Linked DNA regions of Homo sapiens: region 1 is reported to be linked to region 2. The links are microRNA targets in miRTarBase. Many come from high-throughput screens and were not tested one by one. Region 2 holds a microRNA gene; the other region holds the end of a gene's coding sequence.
What was found. The annotated mature microRNA hsa-miR-7152-3p reads UCUGGUCCUGGACAGGAGGC and lies in region 2 at 2,981-3,000, opposite strand. An mRNA with a match to its seed (bases 2 to 7 or 8) in the 3' UTR can be bound and repressed. Matches are read on the target gene's strand: a 7mer-m8 pairs with bases 2 to 8, a 7mer-A1 pairs with bases 2 to 7 and ends in A, and an 8mer does both.

Region 1: the mRNA of GNAZ is a reported target of hsa-miR-7152-3p. Seed matches in the 3' UTR shown: 7mer-m8 at 5,132-5,138.

The regions. Positions count from the first base shown.
Region 1 is chr22:23,122,048-23,129,047 of GRCh38, reverse strand. GNAZ (G protein subunit alpha z) reads right to left here. Exons shown (of 3, transcript NM_002073.4): 3 at 4,016-5,961. The coding sequence ends at 5,617. All of the region lies in intron 4 of RSPH14 (radial spoke head 14 homolog), which reads left to right. Among named protein-coding and RNA genes, the nearest start is that of RSPH14, 16 kb to the left of the region's middle. RefSeq lists enhancers at 329-608, 465-1,052, 1,053-1,642, 2,007-2,884, 6,535-7,000.
Region 2 is chr10:71,786,781-71,793,780 of GRCh38, reverse strand. It overlaps MIR7152 (microRNA 7152), which reads right to left and starts at 3,034; the gene lies at 2,981-3,034. It overlaps CDH23 (cadherin related 23), which reads right to left. Exons shown (of 70, transcript NM_022124.6): 45 at 4,739-4,841; 46 at 3,368-3,493; 47 at 2,446-2,649; 48 at 141-599. RefSeq lists an enhancer at 2,594-3,493.

The DNA of each region.
Region 1 (7,000 bases), not on the chromosome of region 2:
ATCACCTGTGGGAACGTGGGTGTCACCTGTGTGGCTTAGCTGGGACAGTCTCTGAGCAGGGCTTAGCTGGCTCCCAGTGAATGCTGGTGGCCATTGGTATGGTTTCCTATCAGTGGCCACACTGGAAGGCCGTTTTCACCATGGCACCCTCTGCACCTGGCAGGGCGCCTGGCATGTGGCTAGCGCTCAACAAATATTGGCTGTTTAGTAGGTTTTATGTCATACTTTAAAGGATCAATTGCTGGTTGTCTTCTTGCTACAGTTCACTTACCTGCTTGCTCATTCCTTCATTCATTTGACAGTATGTGTTGGGCCCCTGTTTTGTTCTGGCCACCGTGCCTCAGTTTCTTCCCCTGTGTCATGGGTGTCTGGGAGAGTGGTTTCAGAATCCTTGCTCTGGCCAAGTCTGACTTGCATGATTTCCCAGAGTAACCAGGAGGGGGCACCCCAGGACTGAGGATTGTCCCAAGTGGGCCCTGGCCCTGCAGGGGCCCTGGGCCCAAGCTGCTGCGCTCACCCACACGCATTCCTCTAAGTTCCTTCCAGGCTGGCTACTCATGCGCCGTGGTGGTGCCGTGTCAGGAGAGGAGAAAATAGGATTGTAGAGACAGATGTCACACACAGGCTGCCAGCCCAGGCTCCCTGCCAGCTGGGCCCTGAGTGATGCACAGGGTCTGCTTCTGCTCCCCAGCCCGATGAGAGGGGGAGGCCTGGCAGGCCAGGAACCAAGAGGCCAGAGTGTCCCTATCGGTGACCATCATTCCTGCTAAGTCCAGGAATGGAGTAGAACCCCATGAGAAAACAGGTTTCATTTTTGTGGGAGAGAGAGTTCTGTGGCTGAAATTGACAATTCTTCTCTAACCAGATTTTGGGGTGCAGTTGAACAGCTCAGGGTCCCCCGGAAGTATCCCTCTACCATCCCACTGGTCCTGACTGGGCACACCTGTGAGTCTGTTCTGGCCCTGCCTCCAGTCTCCCTCTCCTTGTGCCAGGCTCTGAGACCCCAGCCCAGCTTTAGCAGCAGCATGATGGGGCCTGTTCTGACCCTGACTCCACACGTGTGCAGCCCGGGGGTGGAGATGGATGACCCTCCCAGCCCGGAGGAGAGCACCAGCCCGAGAGGAGGAGGGAGGCAGCAAGGATGCGCCTGGGCCCTGCCTCTGGAAATTGGCTCCGTGACCTTGGAAAGGAGAACTGGGCTTGGGAAGGGGAGGGTGCCGCGGGTGAAATGTCTGGATGCAGTTTGATCCAAGTCATTTGGGGGTTCAGGGGACATCCCTGGAGTCATAGCATCTAAGCTAGGGAGAAATCTGGGGGTCTACAGCTATACCACCCAGAATGCACCCAATGTCATCTGAACCCCAGGTACGTGGGCTGCTGGAGAAGCAAAGTAGGTGCTCCCACTGCAGTGAGCCGTATGTCTCATTCCAGGCTAGTGGCCTTGGGTGGGCCACCACTGCACCCTGTCCCTCTTCAGCAGCCACCCGTGGACACCCAGCTTCCTTCGATGGACCCAGAGCAGCCTCCTCCTCCTCCTCCCCTTGATGCCACAGGGTGAGGGGTGGAGGCCAGCTGCCCTAGAGGAGCAGGCCCTTTTCTGTCTTGCCTGCCCTCAGGGCAGGGTGCACCAGAACCCCAGGCACATCCTCAGCCTGACAGTCTTTGGTGGGTAGTTGTACCCCATTCCTGGACTTAGCAGGAATGATGGTCACTGATAGGGACACTCTGGCCTCTTGGTTCCCGGCCTGTCAGGCATCCCCATCTCGTCAGGCTCATCTGGGTGAGGTGAGCTCATCCAGGGTGAGGTCCAGCCTCAGTGTTGCCTCAAGTCCTCATGGTGCAGTGCAGCCCTTCCTGGCACTGTCCCCTGAGCCAGATGGACCATTTGTTCTGGAGGGCTGACGTTGGAAGTAGGGTGCCAGGGCCTGTTGCCACTGTGGGGATCTGGGGAATGTGGACAGAGTAAAGCCCCTCAGGTCCTGGCCTGGTGGGGTCACATTGTGTGATGCTGATAAGTCATCGCCTCTCCTGGTCTCTGCTTCCACTTCTGTAGAATGGAATCAAGCATCTTGGCCTCCCATGAGTGTGCCCCCCAGTGAGCAGTCACTGAGGAGAGCTGGGATTATCGTGACCACTGTTGTTGACCCATTGCACCACCAGGGTGACCACGTGGGCTATAGGTGAGGATGGCAATATCCCACAGGGAGCCACATGATGGTGGGTCCTGGGAAAGGAGGCTGGGGCTGCGTGAAGTAGGACAAGGCGGGATTAGTCACCTGCAGTGGGCAGGGCTGGCCCAGCCATCCCCAGGTCCTCCCCTTCAGGCACCCTGCCACCTACTCTAGCCTCCTCTCACCAGCAACCTTGGTGAGTCCTGGTGCTTACCTCCCGTTGGCTAAGACTCCTGGACCATCCCAGCTCAGCATGCGCCTTCTCCATGGGGCATTGTTTGGAGGAATGAGGTGGGTCAGAGGCGCTGGCCTTGAGCTGCTCAATGGAGTTTCCAACACCCCTTCCCACTCGACCCTGGAGCCCTGACAGATGGAATGCAGGGAAGGAGGAGACTTCCAAGAAGCTGCCCAGGTGACTTTGAGCTGTGAGGATGGGGAAGGACATGCTAGGCAAAGGGATCATTGGGGGCAAGAGCGGAACAAGGCAGGCTCAGGAGGAGAACCAGTGCAGGTGAACTGCAGGGGAGGACGGGGCCAGAGAGGTCGACAGCGCCTGAGGTTTCTCTGCAGCCTATGGGGGAACTGGAGACTCCTGGCTAGGTTCTGGGAACCGGGAGAAACCTCCCTCCAGGGAAGGCCTCCTCTGATCTTTGCACACATTAGGAAGGGAGGCTCAATCCCTTTCTCCCTTTAGCCATGTATTTTTAGATTAAAGATGCTCACGGCGAAATTACTGCTCTTTTCACAGTTGGCATTAAAAGCACAAAATAAGTCTCAACGATTTTAAGTCACACGTTATTTCTTCAGAAACAAAAGCCCCTCTGGGTTCTGGCTGTTTGGTGACGTAGGAAGGTGTGAAGGGAGTCCCTGCGTGGGCTTAGGAGTAGGGATGGGGCGGTGACAGCACCAGGGCTGCGTGCGTATCTGCGCGTGTGTGCATGTGCTTGTGTGCATGCATGCGTGTGTGTGCCTGCCGACCCCCCACTTTGCTTGAGGTCCTGCTTTGAGGAGGAGGCTGCAGGGTGGTTCTGTGCTGCTCCCTGTAGGCTTCCATCCTGTGCAGGTGCCAAGCCAGGCAAGGACTCCAGCAGGAGGAAAGATCAGCGTCTCTGCTCCTCCAGTGGGAGCAACAGCTCCCTGGCCTGGTGAATCCTGGCTTGACTGCTCCCTGACCTCAGGCACCTTTCCTCATCTGTAAAATGGGCACCTCTGGCAACCTGCTGAGGTGGGGTGTTACATAAAATCATTAGTAAGGAGCCCGGCTCCGTGCCTGGTTCGCAGCAGGCCCTCGGTGAATGCACTCCGTTGACTTCTGATCGGCACTTTTCCACTATATCCAGATACCTCTAACCACACAAGCCAGTCAGCGAGCACTGCATGCTCAGGGACCCCTCCTCTCCAAAACCCTACAAGGTTTGCCCTACACTACTGGGGGCACAGGAACCCTCCAGGCCCTCAGGGCACCTCTTCCACTCTGCAGGATGACTCTGACATTGGCTGAGGTGTCCACATGGTGGGAGGGGTCCAGGGTATGGCACAGCCTGGGTCAGTGTTGGGTGGGGTCTTGGGGGCAGCGGGAGGGGCAGGAGTCATCATCACCCCCAGACCTCCACACCAGGACTGCATGGACCTGGCAGGTTTCCCCTCTTTGCAGTTTCTTTCCTCTCGTGATGTTTATTTGTGATGTTCATTGCAAAATGACTCTACCTAAATGTGTGGAGGTATAGGGGTGGGGTTTGGAATATGGGACCTCAGAATGGAGGTGTCCCCGGCTGCCCTTCCAGATGGCACCAAGTCCAGCCACAGGTCAGCTACACACATAGCACACTGGGACAATGCTGGGCTCCATTCAGGGTATTTTATTTTCTTAAAGTAGACAACCTTTGACTTTCATCCAATCCCCAGCTTCTCTTTCCCCCGTACATCTCTTCACGTCCTTGGCTGTGATTCCGCACACTGACCTCGGACACACAGCTACTGCACGGAGAGAGGGAGGGAGATCTGGCAAGGGCTCCGGCAGTGCCTCTCCTCTCCATGGCGCAGTTCGTATTTACACACGGCCCTTGGCGAACGTCCTTTCAACGCAGTTGCCCATAGGCCCTGGGACAGGAAGGCCCAGATCAGGGTCCCAGCAGGGCCTCCCTCAGGCCACAACGCTGGCTGTGCCTTCACAGGAGTCAGAGCATTTCCAGCCAGTCTCAGGCGCGGGGCATGCTGGGACCAGGGGCACCACCCCTTGCTCCCCTTCCTTCACTCAGCAAAGCCACAAATAATTTACTCTTTAAATACCAAGACACTTAGCTATTGTTCATTTGCTCCCAGGTGAAAGAACCTTCTTTAAATATGTCGTGTTTATTTTCTTAAATAAAAACAAAGCAGAAAACCCCACCATTAACAAGAGGACACTGCAGAGGCTTATGTACAACACGTGTCCCGCGAGGCTGGCGCAGGACTGCCACTCACTCCAAAATTTCTTTGGAGCAGAGAGACAGATCGTCCAGATAACAACTTTTACACTCAGCAAGCCAGACACAAAAAAGACCACCTGAAAAAAAATATGTTTTGAAAATCTGCATTTAAAAAAGAATACTCAACTGCATTTGAAATTTTCTGGATTTTTTTCTGCGAAACACCACGAGATTTGGCCAAAAAAAAAAAAAAACCAAAAAACAAAACAAAAAAAAAATGTCAGAGAAGGAAAACCAGGTTTTGATTTATAAAACATCAGACTAGTAGAAGAAAAGCTGGAATCCCAGCTGGCCTAGTTTGAAATAAATCGTGCCACTCGTTTTGTTGTATTGGTTTTTGCTGCATATTTTGAAGCTGTTTTTTAAAAAGAGCTGTGAGTGGCTGGAGGTCTGGTTAGTGCTGTCACCCGGCTCCTAAGGTCCCAGGTCCAGAATGAAAGTGGTGCTGAGCAGCTGTGTGCAGGCCAGCAGGGAAGGTGCACAGACCCTGCACTGGTCCTCCCTCTTGGTCAGCGGCAAGGTCCCTAGGCCAGAGCTCGGGCAGCGAGCTGGCCCTCCTCCAGGCGACAGGGGTGCAGTTGGCCTACCTTGCCTCAGCCCTGCTGCCTATCCCTAACAATCCAATGCAGACCCCCAAGTGGAGTGGGGCCAACTCAGGAAGGCAAAGTGAAGGGGCAGGTTGGGCTTGTAGTGACCTTGTGACAGCTTCTCAAGTCTTCAAGAGACCTCGACATTTTAGAGGATTTTGCCATCTCCAGATGTGTGTGTGTGCATGTGTGTGTGTCTATCTACCTAGCAATCTATCCGTAAATATTTATGTTTGCAGAAATGTGGGGCCAAGGAGGCAGAGGCCAAGGGGTGGGGGACATTCTTTAGGCCCCCTGTTTTCTGCCCCTGGATTGGGCCTCTCTAGCACGCGTTGGGGCATGACACCCCGTGGGTTTCACCATAGGCAGGCGGGCCCCGGGCCCAGCTCCTCAGCAAAGGCCAATGTACTTGAGATTGTTCTGTATGATGACGTCTGTCACCGCGTCGAAGACAAACTGGATGTTACTGGTGTCGGTGGCGCAGGTGAAGTGGGAGTAGATCTCCTTGGTCTCCTTGTTGCGGTTCAGGTCTTCAAACTGCCGCTGGATGTAGACAGCGGCCTCCTCGTACGTGTTCTGGCCCTTGTACTCGGGAAAGCAGATGGTGAGCGGGATGCGGCGGATCTTCTCTGCCAGCAGGTCCTTCTTGTTCAGGAAGAGGATGAGTGAGGTGTTGATGAACCAGTTGTTGTTGCAGATGGAGTCAAAGAGGCGCAAGCTCTCTGCCATCCGACTCTGGGGAAAGGAAAGTACTGGCGTTAATCAGGCCCGCAGCAGGCAGAGACAGACCCTAGACCTGCAGCCCTGCCAGAGGAAGCCTTTGCTAGGGTCTCAGCCCAAGACTGGTCCCTGCAATGGCACCTCCTTCTGCTGGGGAAGCCCAGGTTAAATGTCTTCACCCACCTCCCACGGAAATAGCCGGCAGCACCCTCCTTGCCAGTGGCAAGTGCTTGGAAGATGTTCTCTTGCCCCTTTTGGGTCTCTCCTCTGGGTGCCAGTGATCTCAACATATAGCTTTGGGGCTACAGATGTGCCAAGCACAGCCTCCTAAACCGCTGGGCACCTCCAGCTCCGAGGACCCCCCATCTTCCCACTGCCCATCCACAGGCTGCCCCACACCTGTACAAGGAAGGCCATCTTCTGCAGGAGCCCCCGTCACATCATAGCTCCCTCAATGCAGGCGCTGGCAGCCTTGTGCCCTATCTGGGTTCTGGCCCAGTCCTTCAAAACTCTGATCCTTCCATGTGGTACCATCGGACACTAGGAAGTCTGTGAGGGAGCAGCCTTCACTTCTGTAACCAAAGTCTCCAGTTCTTGAGAGCTGGGAAGGAAACACCAGCCAGAGGCCAGGCTCCTCCCCTGCCCTCCAGCTGTGGGCACTCCCACCAGCTGCTGTGGGGCATCTGGCACCGCCTCTCTGCCGAGGCAGGACCCTGGCATCCTGGACAGAGCTCTCAGTACATGCAGAGGACAGGAGTGTGGTGGGCCAGGAAGAGGCAGTGACCACAACGGAGTGTGGCGCCTGTCCGCTCCTCAATTCTCTTCTGAGAATCTTCGATGTGTTATAGCCAGGGGTCTGGGCTTTTAAGAAGCATGATGCTCTTGTCTGACTCCCCAGTTCACCACTTCCCTGCAAAATGAATAAATTCTAACTTCTAAAAGGAGTAACTACCTGGAATTTGCTGCTGGCAAAAGCTACCCCTGCTTCTAAGATAAACTCAATGAGCAAAATATCAAAAATCTGGAACCAATCTGGCTTAGATCTGATGCTTTG
Region 2 (7,000 bases):
TTTCCCTCCAGAGGAGGGGGAGAGAAGAGAGTAGCAAGGGAACAGCAAAGAAAGAGAAAGGAGAAAGAAGGGGGAAGCAGGGAGCGAGGAGACAGGACTGGGAGCTGGGAGGGAGGTGGGAGGGGTGCAGGCCCTTGTACCTGTGTTGATATTCACAGCAAAGGCGTCCTCCTGGTTGGGCACCAGGCGATCAGTGTCGTCCTTGGCCACAATGCCGACAATGTGGTACTCTAGCTTTGGGTTGAGGTCGTGGTCAATGGCCGTGATATTGGCAATGACAGTGCCTGGCTCAGCCGACTCCAGCACGCTCACTGTCTGGATGGGGTTGAGGAACTCGGGGCGGGAGTCATTGATGTCATCGATCAGAATGGTGACAATGGCTGTGCCCGAGAGAGGAACGGTGCCCCGGTCGGTGGCCACCACCGTTAGCCTGTAGGACTCCTGCTCCTCTCTGTCGATGGTGGCATTACCAACACGGATGACCCCGGTGACCAGATGAATGAGGAAGCGGTCCTGAGCCCCAGCTTCTATTCGGTAGACCAGCTCCCCATTGAGGCCACTGTCCTCATCTGTGGCTGTGACTTGAAGGACTGAGAATCCTGTTGGAGAGGGAAAAGGGAGTAGCTGCGCACAGTGGCCTCTTCCAGAAAGATCTACCAAGACACATTTGTTGGTGATCTTCTCAAGTCCCCTTCTCATGACAGCCTTGACAGCATTTTCTTTTATACCTTTTTCATACTTGCAATTTTATAGGAAAATGGCATGTTATTTTATTTTATATTCTTTGATTAAACAATATTTTATAATGTAATAATTAGTTGTATCTTCTGCAAATGGTCTGCTTTTGTCTTTTGTCCATTTTTCTGTCAATTATACAAGTCACATAATTATGACAACTTGAGACATATATATATATATATATATATATTTTTTTTTTTTTTTTTTTTTTTTTTTTTTTTTAGATGGAGTCTTACACTGTCACCTAGGCTGGAGTGCAGTGGTGTGATCTCGGCTTACTGCAACCTCTGCTTCCCAGGTTCAAGTGATTCTTATGCAGCAGACTCCTGAGTAGCTGGGATTACAGGCACCCACTACCATGCCTGGCTAATTTTTTGTATTTTTAGTAGAGAAAGGGTTTCTCCATGTCAGGCTGGTCTGGAACTCCAGACCTCAAGTGATCCACCTGCCTCAGCCTCCCAAATTGCTGGGATTACAGGCGTGAGCCACCTCGCCTGGACCAAGACAAATATACTTTTTGGTTTGTTGTTTGCCTTTCAATATTGGCTATAATTATTTGATGTAACAAGGTTTAAATTAGCATGCATAGAAATTTAATATTTTTCCTCTTAAGTTCTTTTCTTTTATGCTTAGAACCTTCTTACCCAGAAATGAGTTATTCACCTAAGTTTTCTTCATTTATTGTTTAGTGTTTTCTACTTTTTAATATTTTCTTTTGGTTTTTATTTTGGTGTCTGACATGGGGGAGAATCTACACTAAATATTACATTATTATTATATTAGATTACATACAGATTATAATAATTGGATGTAATTGATTAGATTAAATAGGTTTTTGCACACTGAATAAGTAGCTTCCCCATTGGCCTCATTGCTTCCTTTATCACATCATATTTTATTCTTTAATTTACCAGTATCTGTTTCTGGGCTACTTTGTCCTGGAGTCTTGTGCCCATATTGCATGGCCTTAAATACTGTAGCTTTATAATATGTTATAAAATCTGGTAAGCCAAATCTGGCTTATTATACTTATGTTTTTCAAAATTTTCTTATTCTTCCAGAAGTTATATTTGATTTTGATGGGAATCATGTTGATCCTATTTTGACTTTAAAATAGTCAGTCTTTCCATCTGGGAATTCAAATGGAGAATACTTAGGAATCTTGTAGGCCAGGCGTGGTGGCTCACACCTGTAATCCCAGCACTTTGGGAGGCTGAGGCGAGTGGATCACCTGAGGTCAGGAGTTTGCGACCAGCCTGGCCAACAGGGTGAAACCCCGTCTCTACTAAAAATACAAAAATTAGCTGGGTGTGGTGGTGGGCGCCTGTAATCCCAGCTACTCGGGAGGCTGAGGCAGGAGAATCACTTGAACCTGGGAGGCTGAGGTTGCAGTGAGCCGAGATTGTGCCATTGCACTCCAGCCTGGGCAACAAGAGCAAAACTCCGTCTTAAAAAAAAAAAAAGAAAAGAAAAGAAAAAGAAAGAAAGGAAAAAAGAATCTTGTTTTGCAGGCAAGATACAGAAGCTCAGAGGAGGGAAGCAGGGGCCCAGGTCTCCTGACTCCCTCTCCAGTGTGTTCTACACTCACCCTGCTGCCCATCTTTCTCCCCACTGGAGGCAAACTCCGTGTCCAACCTGAGGCTCCAGTCCCCTGTGACCACCAACCGGCCCCTGGTTGTGGGGTGCTGGGGCCTGTCCCCTGCTTACCAGGCGGGCAGTTCTCTAGCAGATGGACAGTGAGGGTGGCAGGGCTAAAGGTGGGCCGGTTGTCATTGTCATCCAGGATGGTGATGAGCAGGTGGGCCGTGCTGTTGAGCAGCCCGATGTCCTCAGCCAGCAGCAGCAGCTCCAGGATGGGTGGCGAGAATGCCTCCCGGTCAATGATGACACCTGACCTCACGGTCACCACACCTGGCACCCGGTGCCGCCAGCCAGGGAAACACACAGAAAAGGGGTGCGGTGGGAAGACAGGGCAAGAACCAACAGGGAGAGAGCAGAGAAAGACAGGGGCACCATGGGACAGAGATGAAAGAGGAGCAGAGGCAGTAACAAAATGACTTTCTCCCCCACAGGCTCAACCACCCGTGCTGAGGGAGGGCCCCATGCATTTCCTGTGGTTGTCCCCTCTGCAGGTGCCCTCTGCTGTCTTCAAGACTCTTGCCTGGGAAGAGTGACCCAGGGCACAGGGTTGACCGTCTCTGTTGACAGATGTGCTTTCCTGTCGGCACCTGTCACCAAAGCGGCCTCCTGTCCAGGACCAGACGGATGTGGCATGGTCTGGTTGGAGGACAGGAAAGTCGCTCTGGCTACTTCTGCTGGACTAGGGGCCTGAGCCTCTGGCCTGCGCATGGGGAGATGACGGGAGTGGGCTGGGGGGCTCCCGGCCCAGGCTGAGAGTTCGTGCACCAACAGAGGTCCTGTGTATCGTCTCCAAGCCTCTTCCCACGTCCCCCTGCCAGGCCACTGGGTGATATAACCCAGCTGCAAGATGGGGACTCTGGGCTGTGAAAAATGGGGTCTCCACGGACAGCCTGGGTCCAGCACTGAGAAGGGAGGCCCTCAATCCAGCAGTGTGGCCATCCCCACCCCAGAATCAGGCTGGGAGTGCTGGGTGGCACAGAGGCCTCACCGGTGCTGCTGTTGATGTCAAAGAGGCCACTCTGGGCACCCAGCAGCTGGTAGGTCACCACGGCGTAGATGTCTTGGTCTGCATCCAGGGCCAGGATGGGCCCATTGAGCACCGTGAGAGGGGTGCCTGGGCCAGAAGGAGAGGGGTCACCACAAGACCAACCCAGCCCCCTGCCCTCCCACCTCCCCTGCCCTGTCCCGGTGAGCCATGGCTGACGATGGATGAGAGGGGAGGGAGGTGAGGTGGACAGGGTGGGGAGGCCCTGGGGGCGGGCCTGCGGCAGCCTTGGCAGACTGAACGCAGATGCCTGGGGAGCGGCCTCAAAGCCCTGCTGGGGAGAAAACATGAGAGTGGTGAGCAAGGCCCCGGCTGCCCAGAGCCACATCTGCCTTCCCAGCAGCCTTTGAGGCTGGCCGCTCCTCGGGAGGGTCTGGGGCTCCCTGACATCCCCTCCCCATGTGTGGGTCTCGCCTGTCAACACATGTGTTCACACAATGCTCTGCCTTTGGGGGCCTGGCCATACATGACTAGAAAAACCCACTCATGTGTGCATCAAGTTCTGTGTTCACATGGCCACAGGCACTTGTCCAGGAGCACGCACAGGCCTGGGATTCCCTGGTTGTGCACTCGTGTGCCTCTGCAGGTGGGCATGTCTGCACACGAGCGCATCAGTGGGCACCCATGTACCTATATGTGTCTGTGCACATGTGTAACCCCACGCACATGCCTTGGTATGGACACACACGGGCACATGTGTGAGCATACACACAGACAGGTTTAAGAATGAAATTCACCTAGGGGGGATGCCCAGCCAGAGATGAGGAACAGGGGCTGGGGAGACTGGAGGAGTGCAGGTGCCACCTCAGGGGACATCACAGAGGAGATTCTGTCCCTCTGGAGGGAGGTGAGCCTGGTCAGTGCATGTGTGTGGGGAGAGGGCTACACTGGCCTACCCAGGACCCCCTGACCTCCCACTTCTAGTTATAGATGCTCCCCAGGGCTTCCAGAAGGCCCTGGGATGCCCTGCACTCCTGGGGTGGAGGGAGCAGTGAGGGGTGGACCCACTCCCCTCCGGGGTAGTCCTCACACCTTACATGCCCTTCTTGAGGGATGGTGGGGCAGCTCTCAGACCACCCTGGGGAACAATGACCACGACTGTCTCTTCCAACCAGACCTGTGGCTTCTTTGTGCTCATAGGAGGCCCGGGAGCCCCAGCCCACCATCTCCCGGAGCTGCACCCATCCTTCCCCTCCCGCACCCACTGGGGTCTAGGTTCAGCTATGCCGTTAGGCATAAGGGAGGTCCTCAGGCATCCCAGGCCCCAGTGGTGCCTGGCAACAGCAGGAGCTCCCGGGTGGGCCCAGCACCTACCAGCGGGAGAGTTTTCCATCACCTCTGCCTGGTAGGTGCTTTTAGTGAAGAGGGGGTGGTTGTCATTCTCATCAGAAAGGAAGATCAGAAGCAAGTCATAATCCTGCAAGGGGCAGAATGGGGCACGTTGTAGGCCATGCTCAGCAAAGTGCCCCCACCTAGGTGGGAGGAGGGTTGGGAGGTTGGGGATTGGGGCACAGAGGTGGATGATCAGAAAAGCCCACACCAACATGAACTCACATTTTTCAAAAGAAGACATACAAGAGGGCAACAAACATGAAAAAATGTGGCCGGGTGCAGTGGCTCATGCCTGTAATCCCAGCACTTTGGGAGGCCAAGACGGGCAGATCACGAGGTCAGGAGATCGAGACCATCCTGGCTAACATGGTGAAACCCCGTCTCTACTAAAAGCACAAAAAATTAGCTGGGCGTGGTGGCACGCACCTGTAGTCCCAGCTACTTGGGAGGCTGAGGCAGGAGAATGGCATGAACCCAGGAGGCGGAGCTTGCAGCGAGCGGATATCACGCCACTGCACTCCAGCCCAGATGACAGAGCAAGACTCCATCTCAAAAAAAAAGAAAAAAAGAAAAAATGCTTAGTGTTGCTAATCATCAGAGAAATGCAATAAGCCACAGTGAGGTACCCTCTCACACCAGTCAGAACGGCTATTATTAAAAAGTCAAAAAACAACATGCTGGGCATGGTGGCTCACGCCTGTAATCCCAGCACTTTGGGAGTCTGAGGTGGGCGGATCACTTAAGGTCAGGAGTTCGAGACCAGCCTGGCCAATATGGTGAAACCCTGTCTCTACTTAAAATACAAAAAAATTAGCTGGGCATGATGGCTTACACCTGTAATCCCAGCTACTTGGGAAGTTGAGACAGGAGAATCGCTTGAACCCAGGAGGCAGAGATTGCAGTGAGCCGAGATTGTGCCACTGTACTCCAGCCTGGGCAAGAGAGCAAGACACCATCTCAAGAAAAAAACAACAGACACTGGTGAGGATGCAGAGAAAAGGGAATGCTCATACACTGCTGGTGGGAATGTAAATTCCTTCAGCCACTGTGGCAAGCAATATGGAGATTTCTCAAAGAACTAAAGACAGAATTACCCTTCAATCCCACAATACCCCTCTACTGGGTACCTGCCCAAAGGGAAATACATCGTTATATCAAAAAGATACTTACACTCACATGTTTATCGCCACACTATTCACAATAGCAAAGATATGGAATCAATGTAAGTGTCCATCCACAGAGGACTGACTAAAGAAAATGTGGTATATAGACCATGGAATACTACTCAACCGTAAGAAAGAGTGAAGTCGTGTCTTTTGCAGCAACATGGATGGAACTGAAGGCCATTATCCTAAGTGAAATGACTCAGAAATAGAAAGTCAAATATTGCATATTTTCACTTATAAGTGGGAGCTAAATAATGTGTAACCATGGATATACAGAATGGAATAAGAGTCATTGGAGACTCAGAAGGGTGGGAGGATGGGAAGAGGGTGAGGGTTGAAAAATTATTTATTAGGTACAATGTTCACTGTTCAGTGAGTGGCAGTGAGTTCACAGTTCAGTGAACATTGGACATAATAGGTAGTTTTGGGTACACCTGATGGGTACACTAAAAGCCCAGTCTTCACCACTACACAATATGGACATGTTAAGAAACCTGTGCTTGTACTCCCTGAATCTAAAAAAAAAAAAAAAAAAAAAATCTGAAAAGCGCCCACACCAGGGTTCAAAGACCTGGGTTGAAGACCCTATTCTGGGTGATCTTGGGTGCCTCATTTCCCCTGTCTGGGTCTCAGTTTTCTAGTCTGGCAAATAGGGATTTAACTCCTTCACGGAGGTGTGGCAAATGGGATTGAATCCTGTTCCATCTCACTTCAGGCGGGAAGATGAGTCCTGTTTCTCGACCTTCAAGGCCTTCCTGTTGCCCTGGCTGGAGTTCATTCAAACTCTGCCAGTGCCTCACTTCACACTCGCAAACCTCAGAACCTCCAGTACCCCTGTGCACTGTCACCACCTCAGAGACAAGGGAACCAAGGTGCAGAGATGGGGAGTGCCCATTCAGAGCCAAGTGGTGAGTTAGCAGCAGAGTGGGGCTTAGCCCCTAAGCCCACCGAGTCCTGCCACTCAATGCTGCTTTTACCCGGGGCCCTCCTGAAGCCAGGCAAGGGAGAGGAAAAATGAGAGCAGAAAAGAGAAAAAGTGGGGGCAAAAATGAGGGAGTAGAAGCTGGGCATGGTGGCT